2 separate regions of the Homo sapiens genome follow, and region 2 is linked to region 1. The links come from fine-mapping of genetic effects on gene expression. Tissue or cell type: left ventricle. Region 1 holds a variant in brackets; the other region holds the start of a gene. All regions are shown on one strand. Distances are between the middles of the regions. Region 1 overlaps TRIOBP (TRIO and F-actin binding protein). Region 2 holds the start of LGALS2 (galectin 2).

Evidence for each region. PIP is the estimated chance that this variant, and not a neighbour inherited with it, causes the effect.
Region 2: LGALS2 starts here. The variant in region 1 is the best candidate, but not a certain one, in a credible set for the expression of LGALS2 in left ventricle (GTEx, PIP 0.74).

The regions. Positions count from the first base shown.
Region 1 is chr22:37,704,046-37,709,386 of GRCh38, reverse strand. All of the region lies in intron 3 of TRIOBP (TRIO and F-actin binding protein), which reads right to left. Among named protein-coding and RNA genes, the nearest start is that of TRIOBP, 9.7 kb to the right of the region's middle. The variant C/T (reference allele first, on the strand shown) is at 3,093.
Region 2 is chr22:37,576,820-37,582,221 of GRCh38, reverse strand. It overlaps LGALS2 (galectin 2), which reads left to right and starts at 2,135. Exons shown (of 4, transcript NM_006498.3): 1 at 2,135-2,322. The coding sequence starts at 2,317. RefSeq lists a silencer at 1,749-1,808.

The DNA of each region.
Region 1 (5,341 bases):
GGCCCCAGCCAAGAACAATGAAAGACATGAAACCGCAGGAACCCGATCCCAGCAGCTCACCTGAGAGCCGGGAGGGGCAAGAGCCTGGGCCTGGGATCCCTGGGGACCCTGGAGCCCAGAGCCCAGGGCCAAGGCAGCAGCCTGGTCGGCACCACAGGGTGGGCACAGGCTCTCCAGGTTCCAAGAAGGCCACTGCTGGGGTCAGGCAGTGCCAAGAAGTGGGGTTGGGATGTCTGCCGTGACATCCAGGCCAGGGGAGGCCTGGTGGGATTCAGTTTCACCCCCTGCCCTGCAGCCAGATTCTGATCAGAGCTCGGCAGCAGGAGGTGTCAGATCCACAGCCGGGCCTGGCGCCTTGGCCACCCAGGGGACAGCACAGCAGAAATGAGGAGAGACTTGCCAGGCATCAACCAGGGGTCTCTGCCCCGCCAGGCCCAGCAGGAACCCTAGCCTAATGTGACACCTCATCCTGGCTTTCACCCCAGCCCCCGTCACCACCCCACACCACCCACTTGAGTGGGCCCCACGGTCAGTCCCCAGCTCTGATTTCCTGTCTGGCGGGTCAGCACTGGCTCTGGCCTCAGATGGACCTCGGGCCCCATCCTGGCTCCTCCGGTTCCCGGCTGGTGACCTCAGGCCGATGACTTCCCCTTTCGGAGCATTGTTTTCTCCTCTCGGAAATGGAGGCTGAGAAGCGACCAAGACCTGGGCCACGTGACTTATCCTCTCTGTGCCTCAGTTACCTCATCTACAAAACCGGCAGGATAGCAGGACCCACCTCCTAGGGGTGTTCTGAGAATTAAACGAGTTAATATTTGTAAAGGGCTTTTTTTTTGAGACAGAGTCTCGCTCTTATAGCCCAGGTTAGAGTGCAATGGTGCAGTCTCGGCTCACTGCAACCTTCGCCTCCTGGGTTCAAGCAATTCTTCTGCCTCAGCCACCCCAGTAGCTGTGATTACAGGTGCCCGACACCATGCCCGGCTAATTTTTCTATTTTTAGTAGAGACAGGGGTTTGCCATGTTGGCGAGACTGGTCTCGAACTCCTGATGGCAGGTGATCTGCCTGCCTCGGCCAAAGTGCTGGGATCACAGGCATGAGCCACTGTGCCTGGCCTCAATTTTTTTTTTTTTTTTTTTTTGTGAGACGGAGTCTCACTCTGTCGCTCAGGCTAGAGTGCAGTGGCGTGATCTTGGCTCACTGCAAGCTCCGCCTCCCGGGTTCATGCCATTCTCCTGCCTCAGCCTCCCGAGTAGCTGGGACTATGGACGCCCGCCACCATGCCCAGCTAATTTTTTGTATTTTTAGTAGAGACAGGGTTTCACCGTGTTAGCCAGGATGGTCTCGATCTCCTGATCTCGTGATCCGCCCGCCTCGGCCTCCCAAAGTGCTGGGATTACAGCCGTGAGCCACCACGCCCGGCCTTTTTTTTTTTTTTCTTTTTTTTGAGACAGAGTCTCACTCTGTCACCCAGGCTGGAGTGCAATGGCGCGATCTCAGCTCACTGCAACCTCTGCCTCCCGGGTTCAAGCAATTGTCCTGCCTCAGCCTCCTGAGTAGCTGGGACTACAGGGGTCCGCCACCATACCCAGCTAATTTTTGTATTTTTAGTAGAGACGGGGTTTCACCATGTTGGCCAGGGTGGTCTCGAACTCCTGACCTCAGGTGATCCACCTGCCTCGGCCTCCCAAAGTGCTGGGATTACAGACGTGAGCCACCACTCCCAGCCAATTTTTTTTTTTTAAACATACAGATTTTTTGACTCCATGTTAGAAATCTGTTGACCTAAAGCTAGAGGCAAATATGGCCAAGGGTCCAGAATCCTTGGAGGAAAAATGGGCTAAATTTGGTCCCTGGAGACCTGTGGTGACAGAGAGATGGGGAGAGAGTGGGTGAGGCAGACAGAGTCAGCCAGGGAAGACCCGCCCCAACCCCAGCAGCAGCATCTGAGGGTGATGGAAAAAAAACCCACCCATTCCTTCAATGCCTGACCACGTGGCACCATGGAATAGGTCCAGAGTGGCAGAGGAGTGCACAGGCAGGCAGGTGGAAGAGGCTGGAAGAGGCAGTTGCCATCTTCTGGGGCCCAGGAGGTTTTTTTGTTTTTTTTGAGATGGAGTTTTTCGCTCTTGTCGCCCAGGCTGGAGTGCGGTGGCCAGATCTCGGCTCACTGCAACCTCCGCCTCCCGGATTCAAGAAATTCTCCTGCCTCAGCCTCCCGAGTAGCTGGGATTACAGGCATCCGCCACCACACCCTGTTAATTTTTGTATTTTTGTATTTTTAGTAGAGTCAGGATTTCACCATGCTAGTCAGGCTGGTCTCAAACTCCTGACCTCAAGTGATCCACCCGCCTCGGCCTCCCAAAGTGCTGGGATTACAGGCGTGAGCCACCGCGCCCGGCCCAGTGTCAGTTTTTTACTATCACATCTGGTATACACAGGGAGCTGCTACCTGCCCAGAGTTGGGTCCCAGGGCCTGGCTCGGAGACACAACAGTCACCCCTCATGCATTTGCCAAAGGAGAGTTTCACAGCCTTGATCATCATCAGAGCAACTGGAAGCTCAAGAAAGTGGAGGATTTGATGTCGTGCCCCTCTCTGATCTTTTTTTTTTTTTTTTAAGATAGTCTTGCTGTGGCAGTGGCATGATCACAGTGCACTGCAGCCTCAATCTCCTGGGCTCAAACAATCCTCCTGCCTCAGCCTCCCAAGTAGCTGGGACTGCAGGCATGCACCACTACACCCAGTTCATTTTTTGTTTTGTAGAGATGGGATCTCACTTTGTTAACTAGGCTGGTCTTAAACTCCTGGTTTCAAGCCATCCTTTAGCCTCAGCCTCCTAAAGTGCTGTGATCACAGGCGGGAGCCATTGTGCCTGGCCCCCTCTCTTGAAACCATCTCTGGTCTTGGCTCCTGGGGAGGAGGGGCACACTGTGGGGTTTGCCTCCTAGCCTCTGGCCTTCTTGGCTGTCTCTGCTGATTCCCTGGCCTCCACCCAGGCCTGTTCTCATCTCATTCCACACTTTCTTCCACAGATGATAGGCTCATCCGTGAGCAAGACTTTGGTCAGTGACAGATCCTGAAGACTCGCAGGC[C/T]TCCATCTCCTGTGATGGTCTGGCTCTGAGCTCCAGCCCCACCAATTCACTAACTTCCCCCTCATCTCCACTGTATCCTGCCGACACCCCACACCATGCCCCAGACAACTCCAAACAGACCTCCCAACCCAAGTACCCTGCCTGAAGAAATTACAGGAGTCAGCCATGGGTTTCTCCCCTCCCTCACCCCCAAATCCTGTAGACGTGCCTGCTCAATTAGTTCGGAAATGTGTCCATTTGCCTCCATCTCAAAGCCCCAATCATCTCTGGCACCGATGAGTACGTGCACCTTTTCCTGGCGGGTCACCTGATTCACTCTCACCACCCTGCCCTCCATTCTCTCTGCCCAGCAATCAGAGTGACTGTGAAAAATGCAAATCAGAGCACGTCACTCCCTTATTTGAAATCTTCCGTGGCTTGGCCGGGCGAGGTGGCTCACACTTGTAATCTCAGCACTTTGGGAGGCCAAGGAGGGCAGATTGCTTGAGGCCAGGAGTTCAAGACCAGCCTGAGCGGCATGGTGAAACCCCATCTCTACTAAAAATACAAAAATTAACTGGGTTTGGTAGTACATGCCTGTAGTCTCAGCTACCTGGGAGGCTGAGGCAGGAGAATCGCTTGAACCTGGGAGGCAGAGGTTGCAGTGAGCCGAGATCACGCCTCTGCACTCCAGCCTGTGCGACAGAGCGAGACTCCATCTCAAAAAAAAACAAAAACAAAACAGAAAAAAACCTCAGAATCCTAAGTCCTCAACATGTCCACAAAGCCGCACAAGGCCAGTGAGACCAGGCCTCCCCCCATTCTCCATCCTTGTCCTATAGCTCCTCTGTGCCCCCCTCTTGCCTGTCCTCTCCAGCCCGATGTGCAGCCTCCTTTCTGCCTCAGGGCCTTTGCATATTCTTTGTTTGTTTGTTTTGTTTTGAGAGGATTCTCGCTCTGTTGCCCAGGCTGGAGTACAGTGGTGCAATCTTGGCTCACTGCAACCTCTGCCTCCTGGGTTCAAGAGATTCTCCTGCCTCAGCCTCCTAAGTACCTGGGATTACAGGCACCCACCACCACATGTAGCTAATTTGTGTATTTTTAATAGAGATGGGGTTTCACCATGTTGGCCAGGGTGGTCTTGAACTCCTGACCTCAGGTGATCCACCCGTCTCGGCCTCGTAAAGTGCTGAGATTACAGGCATGAACCACTGCACCTGACCTGTTTGTTTGTTTTGTTTTTGAGACAAGGTCTCATTCTGTTGCCCAGGCTGGAGTGCATTGGCATGCTCATGGCTCACTGCAACCTTGAACTCCTGGGATCCAGTAATCCTCCCACATCAGCCTTCTGACTAGCTGGGACTACAGGTGTGCACCATCCTGCCTGGCTAATTTTTTTTTTTTTTTTTTTGGTAGAAATGGGGTCTCACTGTGCTGCCCAGGCTGGTCTCAAACTCCTGAGTTCAAGTGATCTTCCTGCTTCGGTGCCTCAATCCAAGCACTTCCTCCCAAAGTGCTGGGATTACAGGCGTGAGCTGCCGTGCCAGGCTGGCCTTTGCACATTCTCCTTCCTTCCTCTCCTCTTCCTGCAATTTCACTAATGCTAATGCCTGCACAGCCTTTACTAAGCAGCTGAAATGTCATTTTTTTTTTTTTGGAGAAACTTTCCCTAATGCCCTATCCTTTACCTTCATGCCACTTACTGTTCCTTTATACATTTATCACAACCAAGATTAAATAATCATGTGCATTTCTCTTGCTAGAATATAAGCCCCATGAAGACAAGCCAGGGATGTGTCCCTCTCTCCTCCTCTCCTCCTCTCTCTCCCCCTCCCCCTTCCCCTCCCCCTTCCCCTCCTTCTCCCTGTTTTCTGTACTGTTCTGTTCTGTTCTGTTCTGTTCTGTTCTGTTCTGTTCTGTTCTGTTCTGTTCTGAGTCAGGGTCCAACTCTGTCACCCAGGCTGAAATACAGTAATGCGATCACGGCTCACTGAAGCCCCCGCCTCCCAGTCTCAGGTGATTCTCCCACCTCAGCCTCCTGAGTAACTGAGACTATAGCCGCATCCCACTACGCCCAGCTAATTTTTTAAATTTTTTGTAGAGATGGGGTTTTGCCATGTTGCCAGGATGGTCTCAAACTCCAAGTGATCCACCCACCTTGGCCTCCCAAAGTGCTGGGATTACAGGAGTGAGTCACTGTGCCTGGCTGTGCCTTTCTGATTTATCATGATTTCCCCATCATCTAGCATAATGCCTGGCACATTTTAAGC
Region 2 (5,402 bases), 130 kb after region 1:
CTCACTATGTGGCCCAGGCTGGTCTCGAACTCCTGGACTCAAGCGATCCACCCACCTCAGCTTCCCAAAGTGCTGGGATTACAGGGGTGAGCCACCATGCCCAGCCATTCTTTTTTCTTTTTTTAAATCTTTCATTGGTATAAAATATATACGCAGCAAAGTACGTAAATGATATGCATGGTCATTTTCCCCTGCTTTTGAACATTATTTTAAAACAAGTGAACTTTAAGTTCCTTTTACTGTGTGTACTTTCTGGAACCTCCTATAGTGAGATAATATTATTATTATAATCAGAAAAATGCCACCTTTAAAAGGTATAGTTTCTGTTGATTAGTTTCCAGGGAGAAAGCCTTTTAAAATTCCTTATCTCACTGGGGTTTTACCATGCCTTTGGGAGAAAGGCCGAGAGAGGATTAATTTCCTTGTGGGTGAAAGGAGGAAGTCACTCCTCACTCCGGGCTGGCAGGGGACTGAAGGTGGTGTCCTATGTGGGCACTGGGCAGTGAGCCACCTGCAGACTCCTGGCACCGAGGGCCCTCGGCAAGGCCAGTTCCCCACATCCTGCCCGGAGTGGCCACCGCCAACTCTGATGGAAAACGCTCTGGCTCGCCAAATCCTGAGCTCTAGAAAAGTTCTCCTTCTGGGAATCTGCCCTACATAAGTTGTCACGATGCAGCCAAAGTTTATGTCCAAATAGATTTAATGCAGCAGTATTTTTAATAGCAAAAATGTAGAATTAATGTGAGTGTTCAGCAGAAGGAAATTGGTTAAATAAATTCAGTCGTTGAAAGGTAGACTATTTCGCAGGCATTAAAGTATGGTTCTGAAATATAGATTTGTGGTCTTTAATGTTTCCCAAATGAAGAGAGATAAACAATTGCACAGACAGAGGGGTGTCTATAATGTAAATCTGTGGAGAACCGCCTGGAAGGAAATGTGCCAACAGCGTAAGCCAGTTCCCTCGTGGCGGTGGCATTATGAGTGATTATTTTTCTTTTTATTTAATATCTCTAATTGTCTATAGTAAGCATGCCAGTTACATAAGTAACAGAAGTCAAGAGCAAAGCATTTTCATCCTCCATGTCCCCCACTCAGCCCTCCCACTCCTTCTGCACTTTTATTTATTTTTTATTTTTTTATTTGAGACGGAGCCTCACTCTGTCGCCCAGGCTGGAGTGTAGTGGCGCGATCTTAGCTCCCTGTAACCTCCACCTCCCGGGTTCAAGCGATTCTCCTGCCTCAGCCTCTTGAGCAGCTGTGACTACAGGTGCGACCACGCCCAGCTAATTTTTGTATTTTTAGTAGAGATGGGGTTTCACCATGTTGGCCGGGCTGGTCACAAACTCCTGACTTCAGGTGATCCGCCTGCCTTGGCCTCCCAAAGTGCTGGGATTACAGGCTTAAGCAACCGCGCCCAGCTCTCCTCTGCTTTTGACCATTTGTTGTAAATAGTTTGAAATCTTTTCTTTGAATCCGTGTATTGGTTTTGAAACCTACATGTCCGATCAGATAAATAATATGGGGAGGGAAGAAGAAAACATAATGCTCTCTGACAATGAATCATAACATCATAGAAAATTAGAACCTTAGGCCAGGCGCAATGGCTCACGCCTGTAATCCCAGCACTTTGGGAGGCCAAGGTGGGCAGATCACGAGGTCAGGAGATCGAGACCATCCTGGCTAATACGGTGAAACCTCGTCTCTACTAAAAATACCAAAAAATTAGCCGGGCATGGTGGCGGGTGCCTGTAGTTCCAGCTACTCGGGAGGCTGAGGCAGCAGAATGGTGTGAACCCAGGAGATTGCATTGAGCGGAGATCGTTGCCACTGCACTCCAGCCTGGGTGACAGAGTGAGACTCTGTCTCAAAAAAAAAAAAAAAAGAAAATTAGAAACCTAGACTTTTTTTTTTTTTTGCAAAGCAAATCTCTCTTTTTACAGGCAAGGAAGCTGGGCTAAGTGAGGGAGGCTGGGAGAGCTGTCAAGCGGCTGCATTGCGGTTTGTGTGGGGGCAGAGCTGGGGCTGCTTCCCCTCTCGGGCTCTGGGAGCGCTGAGGAGGGGGAGGCTGGGCTGGAGGGAGGCCAGGAGGATGCTCCGGGCTGGGTGGGGTGGAGCTGGCTGAGGAGTCTTCTGCCTGTTTGTGCTGGGTACTGGGAGATGCAGGCGGGGAGACACAAGGTAGAAGGGGCAAAGTCCTCACCTAGGACCTTGAGGGAGTTAATGTGTAATATTCTAGGATATAAGCTTGACCACGAGTTGAGACCCTGAGCACAGGCCTCCAGGAGCCGCTGGGAGCTGCCGCCAGGAGCTGTCACCATGACGGTGAGGACACTAGCCCCCTGCTGCCTGCCCCACTCTGTTCATCTTTGTCTTTGCCTGGGTGGGGGCTTTTAGGGAAAACCATTGCTGTCCCTCTCTGGGCCTCAGTTTCCCCATCTGTGCAGCAAAGAAGTTGGACAGAGGTCTTTTTTTAAAAAACAGCATCTTGGGCCAGGCGTGGTGGCTCCTGCTTGTAATCCCAGCACTTTGGGAGGCCGAGGCTGGTGGATCATCTGAGGTTGGGAGTTTGAGACCAGCCTGACCAACATGGAGAAACCCCGTCTCTACTAAAAAAATACAAAATTGGCTAGGCCTGGTGGCACATGCCTGTAATCCCAGCTAATGGGGAGGCTGAGGCAGGAGAATCACTTGGACCTGGGAGGCAGAGGTTATGGTGAGCCGAGATTGTGCCATTGCACTCCAGCCTGGGCAACAAGAGTGAGACTCCATCTCAAAACAACAACAACAATACAGCATCTTGCTCTGTCACCAGGTGGAGTGCAGTGGTGGCAATCATAACTCACTACGGACTTGACCTCCTTGGCTTAAATGATCCTCCCACCTCAGCCTCTTGAGTAGCTGGGACCCCAGGCACTCACTACCACACTGGCTAATTTTGTTTGTTTCTTTTCTTTCTCTTTTTTTTTTTTTTTTTGAGATGGAGTCTCGCTCTGTTGCCCAGGCTGGAGTGCAGTGGCCCGATCTCAGCTCACTGCAACCTCTGCTGCCTGGGTTCAAGCAATTCTCTGGTCTCAGCCTCCCAAGTAGCTGGGATTACAGGTATGTGTCACCACACCTGGCTAATTTTTTTTTTTTTGTTGAGATGGAGTTTCTGTTGCCCAGGCTGGAGTGCAATGGCACGATCTCGGCTCACCACAACTTCCACCTCCCAGGTTCAAGCGATTCTCCTGCCTCAGCCTCCTGAGTAGCAGGGATTACAGGCATGGGCCACCACACCCGATTAATTTTGTATTTTTAGTAGAGATGGGGTTTCTCCATGTTGGTCAGGCTGGTCTTGAACTCCTGATCTCAGGTGATCCACCTGCCTTGGCCTCCCAAAGTGCTGGGATTACAGGTGTGAGCCACTGCTCCTGGCCTAATTTTTGTATTTTTAAAGTAGAGACAGGGTTTCACCATGTTGGTCAGGCTGATCTCGAACTCCTGACCTCAGGTGATCCGCCCACCTTGGCCTCCCAAAGTGCTGGGATTACAGGTGTGAGCCACCCCACCCAGCTTATTTCTTATTTTTCGTAGAGATGAGGTCTCACTATGTTGCTCAGGCTGATATCAAACTCCTGGGTTCAAGGGATCCTCCTGCCTTGGCCTCTCGAAGTGCTGAGATTACAGGTGTGAGCCACTGTGCCTGGCCTCCATTGATCTTTATAGAGATAAAAAAAAATCTCAGCTTGGGCAATATAGTGAGACCTTTTCTGCTACAGGTGCATGCCACTACGCTTTGCCTTAAAAAATTAGTGGGGGTAGCGGCACACTCCTCAGCCTTGGGAGGCTGAGGATCACTTGAGCCCAGGAGGTCGAGGCTACAGTGAGCCGTAATTGCACTACTGTACTCCAGCCTGGGCAACAGAGTGAGACCTTGTCTCATATACCCACACACAAAACCCAAGTCTTGGAGAGCAAATTGCCCAAGGCCACAAGCTGCAAATCACAAGGGGTTGAGTGGATTCCCACTGAGGTCTCTGATTCGTTGATTCTACACCAGACTCTGCCACAGCTTTACTGTGTGGCCTTGGCCAAGTCACTGACCGTCTCTGAGCCCCAGTCTTCCTTACATCTGTGGAAGGGGATCACAGGCTGCCTCTTCTGAGGATTAGATGGTGTATTCATTGCCTAGGGCTGCAATAACAAATTACCACCAAATTGTGGGTGGCTTCACACGATAGACGTTTGTTCTGTCTTGGTTTTGGTGACTAGAAACCTGAAACCAAGGTGCTACAGGGCTACGCTCCTGCTGAAGGCGCAAGGGGAGGGTTCTTTCTTGCCTCTTCCAGCTTCTGGTGGCTCCTCGCATTCCTTGGCTTGCATCACTCCAATCTCTGCCTCCAACTTCACGTGGACTCCTCTGTGTGTCTCCGTCTCTGTGTCTATATTTCTCTCCTCTTATGAGAACACTGGTCGTATTGGATTTAGGACCAACCCTAAACCAGTATGACCTCTTAACTCGATTACATATGCAAAGGAACTATTTTTAAATAGGTCACATTGAGGCTGGGCGGGGTGGCTCACCCCTGTAATCCCAGCACTTTGGGAGGCCGAGGCAGGCGGATCACTTGAGATCAGGAGTTCAAGACCAGCCTGGCCAACATGGTGAAACCCTGTCTGTACTGAAAATACAAAAACAAAAAAGAAGAAGAAGAAGAAAAAAAAATTAGACAGATGTTGTGGTGGGCACCCGTAATCCCAGCTACTTGGGAGGCTGAGGCAGGAGAATCGGTTGAACCCGGGAGGCAGAGGTTGCAGTGAGCCGAGATCGAGCCACTGTACTCCAGCCTAGGTGACAGAGTGAGACTTCATCTCAAAAAAAAAAAAAAAGGTCACATTGACAGGTTCCAGGTGGACATGAATTTTCGGGGGACGCTATTCAAGTGCAGGGGGGATGCAGGATGTGAATGTGCCAGGGGTCCTGCGTGGAAGGGTCTATGCCCTCATCACCCTCTGCCTCTCGGGGAGGACTGCTGTGGCCCACGGACTCTCCCCACCTTCTCTTTCCTGGTCATCTCACCTCTGCCTTTTCTTTCCTCTCTCTCCAGCTCCAGAGGCCATATCATCCAAATCCCTTATACGACAGATAAGGGAACCAAGGCCCAGAAAGGGGCTAAGCTGGCCCCAGGCCCCTCTGCCAATTAGGGGCAGAGTCGGCACTAGAGTCTGGGCCCCCAACTCCCCACCCCCCCAGCTCTAGGGACGACCACACCCCCACCCAGTTCTGCCTGTCTCTCTCTGCGCCTTTGACTCTGTTGGGTGGGGACAAGGCTCCCGGGCCTGCACCCTCCCGCAGCTCTCAGCATCCCTATTTGTCCAAGTGCACCCCTGACCCTGGACTTCCGAGTGCTTCTGCCCTGCAG